Regions from separate parts of the Homo sapiens genome. Here region 2 is linked to region 1. Evidence: fine-mapped expression QTL. A gene starts in region 1. The other region holds a variant in brackets. All regions are shown on one strand. Distances are between the middles of the regions.

Evidence for each region. PIP is the estimated chance that this variant, and not a neighbour inherited with it, causes the effect.
Region 2: its variant is the best candidate, but not a certain one, in a credible set for the expression of ELP5 in prefrontal cortex (ROSMAP, PIP 0.76).

What each region holds. Positions count from the first base shown.
Region 1 is chr17:7,249,655-7,255,019 of GRCh38, forward strand. It overlaps ELP5 (elongator acetyltransferase complex subunit 5), which reads left to right and starts at 2,561. Exons shown (of 8, transcript NM_203414.3): 1 at 2,561-2,942; 2 at 3,116-3,176; 3 at 3,264-3,344; 4 at 4,929-5,149. The coding sequence starts at 2,897. CTDNEP1 (CTD nuclear envelope phosphatase 1) reads right to left here and starts at 2,080. Exons shown (of 8, transcript NM_001143775.2): 1 at 1,541-2,080. The coding sequence starts at 1,642. RefSeq lists enhancers at 1,683-2,270, 2,271-2,859, 2,728-2,947 and silencers at 1,808-1,927, 1,998-2,207, 2,978-3,217.
Region 2 is chr17:7,195,621-7,200,989 of GRCh38, forward strand. DLG4 (discs large MAGUK scaffold protein 4) reads right to left here. Exons shown (of 20, transcript NM_001321075.3): 9 at 1,137-1,432; 10 at 853-955; 11 at 600-714. Among named protein-coding and RNA genes, the nearest start is that of ASGR1, 19 kb to the left of the region's middle. RefSeq lists an enhancer at 473-1,672. The variant C/T (reference allele first, on the strand shown) is at 2,353.

The DNA.
Region 1 (5,365 bases):
ATCCCAGTACTTTTGTGAGGCCAAGGCGGGCAGATCACTTGAGGTCAGGAGTTTGAGACCATCCTGGCCAACATGGTGAAAACCCGTTTCTACTAAAATTACAAAAATTAGCCAGGTGTGGTGGCAGGTGCCTGTAATCCCAGCTATTCGAGAGGCTGAAGCAGGAGAATCGCTTGAACCCAGGAAGTGGAGGTTGCAGTGAGCGGAGATGGCACCACTGCACTCCAGCCTGGGCGACAAAGCGAGACTGTCTCAGAAAAGAAAAGAAAACCCCAGGAGATAGCCCCACACATATCCCAGCATCTCTGACCCTAAATTTTTCTTGGCTCCTAGCTCTTGTCTCGGGGGAATAGCGCTGCTGCCTACAGCCACAACCATCCTGTACTGTTCGCGCCCTAAATCAGGAAGTGGAAGCAGACTGGTAAAGGACAGAATGAACCCAAGGCCAGACCCATTCTCCCAAATCAGTTAAATCAACCACCACTACCACTGAGGGCTTTCTGGAAATTCTCTGGACCCCAGGTCACCCCAACCTGGGTTTATTCTTTCAAATTGTATTGAGGTATGCTAAGGGGTACAGACCACAGTACAGACCCAGAACCTGTGTCTCCGCTTACTAAATTCTCCCCAGACTCCTTCCGAGGATTCTCCCTGGTGGTGGTGAGACCACAAGAGCACATTCATTTAAAGTGCTGTTAGCTGAAGGACCTCTGACCTTGGAGAAAAGCTAAGGGAGAGGGGACCCAGAGATGCTTGGGTCCATCCGGACAGTTTCCCTCAGAATGCTAGGCTCTCCTGGAGAAGCAAACGTCCTCATTTTCAAGCCCTACAACTGCCCAGCGCTGTCCTCTGACAGGGACACCCAAACTTCAATGGTGGGCACAGCACCCACCTTGAACTCCCTCCCACAATTAAAGAGGCCCATCGTAAAAGCATCTGCTTTAGTCTTCAATAAATCCAGATACCTACACTCACACTATGAAATAAATTTTCACAGCCTTTTTGGAGGAATTCTCTTAATGGGAACCGCAGGCGTTTCTCCTTCACACCCAGGGCTTTCCCAAGTTCCCGTCCTTGTTTGTAACGTATGCCCTCCCACCCACCTCCACCCTTGACACACAAGTCTGTCTCTTCCTTGTTATAGGACCAAACACACACCGAGGTTCCAAATAGGGTCTTTCCCAAGCCCACATCCACAGATCCGGCTGTCATCAAACAGGTGTTCCCCGCCTCTTGGTTTCTTTAGCAACAACTCCAGCTTTCTTAAAGAGCGCCCCACCCACCACCTTAGCCCCCAAGAGTTGCCAAATCCTGTCCCATCTAGCCCCATCAAAACCCCCAAGGGCAAGGTTCTATTACAAGGGTCTCCCACCTCGCCCCGCTTAGGGTGCCCAATTCTCTGGCGAGAAAAGCCCCAGCCAGGATTCCCTTCCTAGGCCCAAACAGAGGCCCGACACTCCGAAAACCCCTGAGCACCACGGACAGATGTCCCCAACACCGCCAGACGTCCCCAACACCGCCAGCGCCCACCCTGGCTCACCGTGCGGATCTGCCTCCGCAGAAGGTAAATGAAGAAGCTCCAGAGCTTGGCGGCGAAGGCCACGAACGTGCGCAGCCCCAGCAGACACTGCGTCCGCATCATCCCGATGACCCCGGCACCGCCGGCCCCGGGGCCCCCGCGGCCCAGCTCCGCCAGCCCCCCGGGGGCAGCCCCCCGCCGCCGGGAGGGGGAACGGGGGCCCCGAGTGGCAGGAGAGGCTGCAGAGAGGGGCACGGAGCGGGCGGCTCAGAAAGCCACCCCTGGCGAGGGTAAAGCCCAGCGGAACGGGGAGCTGGGGGACAGGCGTGGGCAGCCCGCGGGGGCCCACATGGGCTGGGAGTGGCACCGACGGCTTCGGGGAGGTTGCGGGCCGAGACAGGTAGGGCTAGGATGGGGTCCTCCGAGACCTGGAGGGAAGGGGAAGGATAATTGGGGGAGGGGGCAGTGGGGGAGGGGGCTAGGGAAAAGGGAGGAAGGGAAAAGGGAAGGGGAGGGGGGGAAAGCAGAGAGTGGCCCGCTGCGCAGGCGCGCTAGGGGGCTGCTCGCAGGAACGGGGAGGGCGGGGGCAGCGGCGCGCAAAGGGCCGCGGCAGCGGAGAACGGGCCTGCAGAGCGAAGGAGCAGGGAAGGAGGGGGAGGGGGAGCCGGAGGGCGCAGAGCGCTGGGCCGGAGCGGCCTCCCCCTCCCCGAGCTCGGGGGTCCTTTAGCCGCTGGGGACCGGGGCTGCAGCCTCTGCAGCTGGGTTTCCCACTCTGACAGGCGCCATTTTACCGTCCAAAGGACTCCCTCTTCCTGTCTTTCCCCCTCCTCTTCCCCTTTGACACTACTTCCGGTGGTGACGTGTATTCGCTTCACCGGGACTAAGTTCCTCCTGCGCGGTCTATGGCGGGTAGGTATAAGGAAAGCCAAAAGCACTCCAAGCGAGGCTGCAGTATTGCGCACGCGCAGAAGGTGGCCGCGGGGCGGGGCCTGAGGCGAAGCAGGCCCCGCCTCAAACTGCGTGGGCGGGGAGAGTGACGTCACTTGGCCCGCGCTTAGGGCCCTCGCGGGGGGCTTGTGGGTCCTCCTCCCCCTCCCACTGACAACTGCCCCAACTGCTCTTCCCGCCCCGGTCACAGTGAAAATGTAGACGGGGTCGTTGTCCGTACGACTGTGCGCCAGGGCTCGGGGAGGGGCGCCCTCCGCGTGAGCGCCCCCCTGGGAATATTGAACATAATCACCTCTCATTCCAGACTATGTTAGGTCTTAATGGTGGGAGGACGCCCGAGTGCTCGGCCCGTTTCACCCCGAGGAGGAAGGACACTGGGTCATGACGCCATCAGAGGGCGCCAGAGCAGGGACCGGACGCGAGTTGGAGATGTTGGACTCGCTGTTGGCCTTGGGCGGCCTGGTGCTGCTTCGGGGTGAGAGCCAGAGGCACGGTGGCGGGGCGGGGGGTGCGGTTCGGGCCTGGCTGAGGGGACGGAAGTGGGCAGGAAGGGCCAGGGGTCACAGGCTAGGTGTGGAAATCGCGACGGGTTCGCGAAGGCGGTAATCCCAGCGCTCTCATACCCTTTATCCGTCCCTCGCTCTGCAGATTCCGTGGAGTGGGAGGGGCGCAGTCTCTTGAAGGCGCTTGTCAAGAAATCTGCACTGTGGTGAGTATCCCACAGTGTCTCCCCGGCCTACCCTGGATAGGGCACCTGTGCCCACTCTTTGACAATCCCTTCTCATCTCTGCCTTAGTGGGGAGCAAGTGCATATCCTGGGCTGTGAAGTGAGCGAGGAAGAGTTTCGTGAAGGTTTTGACTCTGATATCAACAATCGGTAAGTACCAGTTGGAAGAGATTTGATTAAATTTGAGACCTATAATGCTAAGGAAATTTCTTTACAACAAGCGCAGAACCTGGTATGTAGTAGCAGTTCCTTAAATATTCATTGAAGAATTGGATATGGATCTTTCAGGAGGCAAGAATTAATAAGAGGAGTGATGAGTATTTGGGGAGTCCAAAGCAAAGATCATAGAAGTCGAGAGAGAAATAGCCTGGAAATAGGGAGAACATGTGGGAAGGGTATTGCAGTAATCCGTTAATCCGGCTTCACTCTTTAAGGTACATATGTACCGAGCACCAACTATCAACCAGGTGCTGTGCAAGATACTGGAGACGGCAGTGAGTGAGACCTGTTCCTGACCTAATGAATTTTAGGGAATAATGGTAGGAAGTGATAGAGGCCTGGTTTAAGGCAGTGGCAGTAGAGATGGAAAGTTTAGAACACATGTAAAGGACTTTAGTGGGTAGAATTTCCAGGATTTATTGACTAATATGGGGGAGAAGAAAGTATTGAGATAAGGAAGTTCCTAAACCCAGCGGCATGCCTGATCAGGAGACATTAAGAACCATTAGTAGGATGCTTTCTACTTCCTAGTCCCGGCAACTCAGTGGATGATAATAGTAGTTTACATCTTATCTGTTGAGCCTCCAATTTTGCATCAGCCATTGTTGTGATAGAGGCGGTGGTGTATGTTCAGATGGCATTCCATGGCTGGGCGCGGTGGCTCACGCCTGTAATCCCAGCACTTTGGGAGGCTGAGGCGGGTGGATCACCTGAGGTCTGGAGTTCGAGACCAGCCTGACCAACATGGAGAAACCCCATCTCTACTAAAAATACAAAAAATTACCTGGGCATGGTGGCACATGCCTGTAATTCCAGCTACTCAGGAGGCTGAGGCAGGAGAATCGCTTGAACCCAGGAGGCAGAGGTTGCAGTGAGCGGAGATCACGCCATTGCACTCCAGCCTGGGCAACGAGCGAAACTCTGTCTCAAAAAAAAAAAAAAAAGCGGGCACTCCACAAGAGAAGATAGAAAAGAGATATCTGGGAAAAAAAGTTCTGCTACCTATGCCAGTCTCCCTTTCCTGAGCTGTTTTTTCTGTAGTTGTTACTTCTTGACTTAATTCTTGACTTTCTTTAAGCTGTTCTACAGGCAGGACCAAATCTCACGTCCTCTGCTTTCTCTTTTTTCACCCAGGGTGATAATCTTTAGGTGCCACACACAGGAAATATTTGATAATGGTGATAACTAACATTTATCAGGCATATACTATGTGTCAAGCACTGTGCTGAATGCTTAGAGGTTGGCATCTCATTTCACCAATGAGGCAACTCTTAGAAATAATGTATCAGTTAGCTGACCTTGGGCAAGTAGCAAAGCCAAGCTTGGAGATCAGGCTGTCAGACACCAAAGTCTGTGCTCTCAATCACTGTATGCTCTCTCTCAGTAATTATCTTTCACTAATATTTAGGATATTCATAAAAATTGAGAAAACAGCCATAAAGATCAGAGGATGAACTTTGTGATCCTCTCGGGGGAAGGGGCAATATTATATTGTGTCTTATTTTCCCTTTGCAGGCTGGTTTACCATGACTTCTTCAGAGACCCTCTCAACTGGTCAAAAACTGAGGAGGCCTTTCCTGGGGGGCCGCTGGGAGCCTTGAGAGCCATGTGCAAGAGGACAGATCCTGTTCCTGTCACCATTGCTCTCGATTCACTCAGCTGGCTGCTACTTCGCCTTCCCTGCACCACACTCTGCCAGGTCCTGCATGCTGTGAGCCATCAGGACTCTTGTCCTGGTGAGACCCCTCCTTCATTGTTTCCCCTCATACATCTCCCTCTGCCAAGGAGTGTGCCCCTTTTCCTTTCTACCCTAGAATAAACATCTGGGTTCTCCAGTCAGACCTTTTTTCATTTTTTTGACTTTTTTGTCTGTTTTTTTTTTTTTTTACTTCTCCTTAATGCCATCTACCATTTGCTTTTTTTTCTCCAAGTTATTTTTTTACTCATTTGTT
Region 2 (5,369 bases), 54 kb before region 1:
GGCCAGCACCTCCGAGAGACATCTGCAGAGCGCAGCGGCAGACGAGGCCATGCAAGCCACAGGGCCAGACAGGGACAGAAGTGGAGGGGTGACCCCCGGGGGCGGGAGAGAGGTGTGTTTTGGCAGAAACCTAAGCCACAAAAAGAGTCAATGGAGACGAGCCCTAAGAGGGGAGCAAAATGCCGCTGGAGAGACGGGGGCAGGCACCACAGAGCTGCGGCCCACGTCTCCGGGACTGCCCACAGGGACGTGAAGGCTGGGGCAACACTCCAAATACCCTAGAGGACCCTGCTTCACCAAGCATTAACCTTCGAGACGCCAAATTGTGGGGTGGCCTGGGAGTCCCGGGGAAGTGCTGGGATGACCAGGGGCTAGAAGGCAATTGGGATACTTGGGGCAGAGGCTATTTTCCCATCGACAGGGAGTATTTCAAATGTTAACCTGTGCAGCCAAGCCCATGAACCCTGGCTGCGCCTCAGGCCTGGGGTGGGGAGCTAGAGCAGGCAGGGTGGAGAAGAGGAGCGGCTGAGGCCCGGGCCAGGCACAGAGTGCCCAGGAACGCAGAGGGGCTGAGGAGTCCAGCCCGGGAAGCCTCTGACCTGATGTAGAAACCCCTTTTGGGGTTGCTCCGCAGGGACGCAGTCCCTGAGCCCAGGCTGCTGTTCATGAGCTGTTCCCGAAGGTCGTGGATCTTGGCCTCGAATCGGCTGTACTCTGAGGAAGGACAGGGAGGTTTCTGAGCTCTGTCCCCATCCTACTGTCACCCCTGTCCTCCCCTACTGAAGCCATCAGCTGAGGAAGAGTTCTAAGGGCCATTTCAGCTCACAAGACAAGGAACTTCCGGCCTGGTACCTTCTGGTTTATACTGAGCGATGATCGTGACCGTCTGACCCGCATTCTTCAGGGCAATGGCAGCCTGCTCATGGCTGGCATTTCGGAGGTCCACACCGTTGACCTAGAGAGAGGACGACAGGCTGTGTCACCAGAGACAGGAGGCAGCACTTCTGGGTCCAGGTGGAGCAGGGAGTGGTCCCGCAAGAGGACTCGGCTGCAGCCCATCCAGGCCCCTCCCCAAGAGCTCTGCGCTCTGCCCTGTGGGGAGGGGGTGGTGCAGGTAGGGGCAGGCCTTCCCTCACCGACAGGATCTGGTCCCCCTTCCGCAGCTCCCCACTGAGGTCTGCAGGGCCCCCGGCCAGGATAAAGGAGATGAAGATGCCTTCACCGTCCTCGCCACCCACGATGTTGAAGCCCAGGCCCGTGGAGCCCCGGTGGATCACAATTCGCCTCGGTTCTCGGGGAATGTCTTCCTCCCCGAGCAGGTCCTTGGCCACTGGAGAGTAGCGCCGAGGGGAAGTGGGGGTCATGGCTGTGGGGTAGTCGGTGCCCAGGTAGCTGCTGTGACTGATCTCATTGTCCAGGTGCTGGGAATAAGCTGAGGAAGACAGGGCAGAGATGAAAGTGCCTGGAGGGAAACAGCACCCGCCACCCAACCTTCTCCCCAGGGTGCCAGAAGAGCCAAAGTTAGGTGGAAGGGAAGATATTCTGCCAGAGATGCCAGGGTGGGGTGGTAAGGGGATATCAGATCACAGTGACATCAGGGGTCAGGAATTTATAGGTGACATCAGAGGCTGGTTGTCCTAGGGGATAAAGGATTTGAACGTTATATGTCCTCAGTATGCCAGGGATGGGGAAGTCAAAGGGAGCATTAATATTACGCTTTGGGGGTTTTCTCTGGGTTCCTGTGTCACTCGAATCTCTTAATCCATAAAATTCTTCTCCCTCTTTTTTCCCCCCACCTCTCTGCCATCCATTCGTTGAAAAAACTAGGTCATTTGTCTAAAAGAATTTCCCACATTCTATGAGGGAAATTCTTTTGTTTTTTTGGGGTTTTTTTGAGAAGGAGTCTCAGGCTGGAGTGCAGTGCCGTGATCTTGGCTCACTGCAGCCTCTGCCTCCCAGGTTCAAGTGATTCTCATGCCTCAGCCTCCCAAGTAGCTGGGATTACAGGCGCGCGCCACCATGCCCAGCTAATTTTTGTATTTTTAGTAGAGACAGTGTTTCACCATGTTGTCCAGGCTGGTCTGGAACTTCTGAACTCAAATGATCCACCCGCTTATGCCTCCCAAAGTGCTGGGATTACAGGCATGAGCCACCTTGACCAGCCTATGAGGGAAATTCTAACAGGGAAATTACTGCTTACCCTCCTGTGGTTTGTTTAGCCTATGCCTCTGCCCCTGTATCTCCTGTAAACTGGCAGTTCATTCTGGAGGCTTGATCAGTTTCAAGTTCAATTCAGAGTTTTTTTTAGTAACTCCTGTATACTTCATAGGTAGCGCTACGTTCTTCCTACAG[C/T]ATCACCACAGGATGCAATAATGCCTGGTTGTCTTTCTGTCAGGTAAGATTAATGGTAGGTTCAGGGTCATCAGCCCAGTCCATCCATTATCTAGCGCCCCATCAGCCTTTCAGGTAAGTTTTAGCCACACTGACAATCACCGCCTGGTTCTGATAAGTATCAAGGACTGCAAAATGGTGGTGATTGTCATTTACTAGTGGGAATTCTTCTGTAAAAAAGAAAAATCTCGACCAGGCACGATGGCTCATGCCTGTAATCCCAGCACTGTGGAGGCCAAGGCAGGCAGATCACTTGAGGTTAAGACTTTGAGACCAGCCTGGCTAACATGGTGAAATCCCGTCTCTACTAAAAATACAAAAATAGGCTGGGCGTGCTGGCTTACGTCTATAATCTCAGGTACTCGGGAGGCTGAGGCAGGAGAATTGCTTGAACCCAGGAGGCGGAGGTTGCAAGGAGCCAAGATTGTGCCACTGCACTCCAGCCTGGGTGACAGAGCGAGACTCCCTCTCAAAAAAAAAAAAAAAAAATTCCTCCAGCTTGGGTAACATGGTGAAACCCTATCTCTACAAAAGACAAAAGTTGAAAGTTAGCTGAGGCTGGGCGCAGTGGCTCACGCCTGTAATCCCAGCACTTTGGGAGGCCGAGGCAGGTGGATCACAAGGTCAGGAGTTCAAAACCAGCCTGGCCAAGATGGTGAAATCCCATCTGTACTAAAAGTACAAAAATTAGCTGGGCGCAGTGGCAGGGCCCTGTAATCCCAGCTACTCGGGAGGCTGAGGCAGGAGAATTGCTGGAACCCGGGCGGCAGAGGTTGCAGTGAGCCAAGATCGTGCCACTGCACTCCAGCCTGGGTGACAGAGTGAGACTCCATCTCAAAAAAAAAAAAAAAAAAGTTAGCTGAGCATGATGGCACTCGCCTGTAATCCCAGCTACTCGGGAGGCTGAGGTGGGAGGATCGCTTGAGCCCAGGAGGCGGAAGTTGCAGTGAGCCAAGATCACACCACTGCACTCCAGCCTGCTGGGTGACAAAGCAAGACCTGCCTCCAACAAAAAAAAAGCAAAAACAAAAACAAAAAAACAGCCCTATGTCAACCTGTTGGTTACTCTCTGAGGTAGCTGGTACATGAAAGGGAGGATAAATGCATGCCTCTCTCTGCATGCCTCTTTCCATTCATTCACCAATTTCAGAATGAATGAGATTGCCTAGCATCCTCCAATTTTTTTTTTAATTATTTATTTTTTTGGGATGGAGTTTCACTCTTGTCGCCCAGGCTGGTGTGCAGTGGTGCGATCTTGGCTCACTGCAACCTCTGCCTCCCAGGTTCAAGGGATTCTCCCACCTCAACCTCTCCAGCAGCTAGGATTACAGGCACCCACCACCACGCCTGGCTAATTTTTTGTATTTTTAGTAGAGACGGGGTTTCGCCATGTTGGGCGGGCTGGTCTCGAACTCCTGACCTCAGGTGATCCGCCTGCCTCAACCTCCCAAAGTGCTGAGATTACAGGCATGAGCCACCGCGCCCAGCCAAAATATTTTTAAGTATTATTATGATCTTAAAGATTTTAATATATTTAACGAGTTTTCACTGGACAGTAGAAGCACCTTCAGTTTGGATCCTGTGTCTTTGCTGAGACCCTATTAGTCCTGGATACCTTCCTTGCTCTCTAGTATGAAAGAAGTTAGAAGCTCATCTTACAGATTTATTGCCAAAGATTTTAAATTGGCTGGGCACGGTGGCTCAGGCCTGTAATCCCAGCACTTTGGGAGGCCGAGGTGGGGGGATCATGAGGTCAGGAGATCAAGACCATCCTGGCTATCACGGTGAAACCCCATCTCTACTAAAATATACAAAAAAATTAGCCAGGCGTGGTGGTGGGCACCTGTAGTCCCAGCTACTCGGGAGGCTGAGGCAGGAGAATGGCATGAACCCGGGAGGCGGAGCTTGCAGTGAGCCAAGATCGTGCCACTGCACTCCAGCCTGGGCGACAGAGCGAGACTCCGTCTCAAAAAAAAAAAAAAAAGAAAAGAAAAAAAAAGATTTTAAATTGACCCTTCTTCCAAGGAGCCCAGGTTCCTTTTGTTAGGTTATGGTATTTAGGAATAGTACCACATGATTTTAATATGGTTTTACAGTATTATTTCATATTTTGTAGGGGCTGCCACACCTCATTATTTGTTTCCAAAATGTCTTAGCTTTTCCACACAAATTTTTCCAGTCAAACTTTAGTGTCAACCTTCCAAGTTCCCAGTAGGGAAACAACATTAAAATTCTGATTAGGATTGAATGGAATGTAGATTAATTTGGAGCCGGTTGAGATCTTTAGCATATTAAGTTTTTCCATCCAGAGACACGGTGTGACTCCTCACCCCTTCCAGTCTTGTTTTATGTCTTTCAGTAAAGTTTTGTCATTTTCTTCATACAAATCTTACATTTCTTGTCAAGTTTCTATTTCTAATAATTTTATAGAAATTTTTTCTATGGCAAAAGGGGGCTTTTTATTCACTACATTTTCTTATTGCTGGGAAGTTACTAATTCCTGTTATTTATCTTACAAATAGCCACATTCCTTTTTTTTTTTGTCGTTTTTTGAGACAGAGTTTCACTCTTGTTGCCCAGGCTGGAGTGCAATGGCGCGATCTCAGCTCGCCGCAACCTCCGCCTCCCAGGTTCAAGCAATTCTCCTGCCTCAGCCTCCTGAGTAGCTGGGATTGCAGGCATGCACCACCATGCCCGGCTAATTTTGTATTTTTAGTAGAGATGGGGTTTCTCCATGTTGGTTAGGCTGGTCTCGAACTCCCAACCTCAGGTGACTCACCCATCTCGGCCTCCCAAAGTGCTGGGATTACAGGCATGAGCCACCGGCGCGCCCAGCCTGTTTTGGTTTTTTTTTTTTTTTTTTTTTGAGATGGAGTCTCGCTCTATCGCCCAGGCTGGAGTGCAGTGGTGAGATCTTGGCTCACTGCAAGCTCCGCCTCCCAGGGTCAAGGAATTCTCCTGTCTCAGCCTCAGGATTA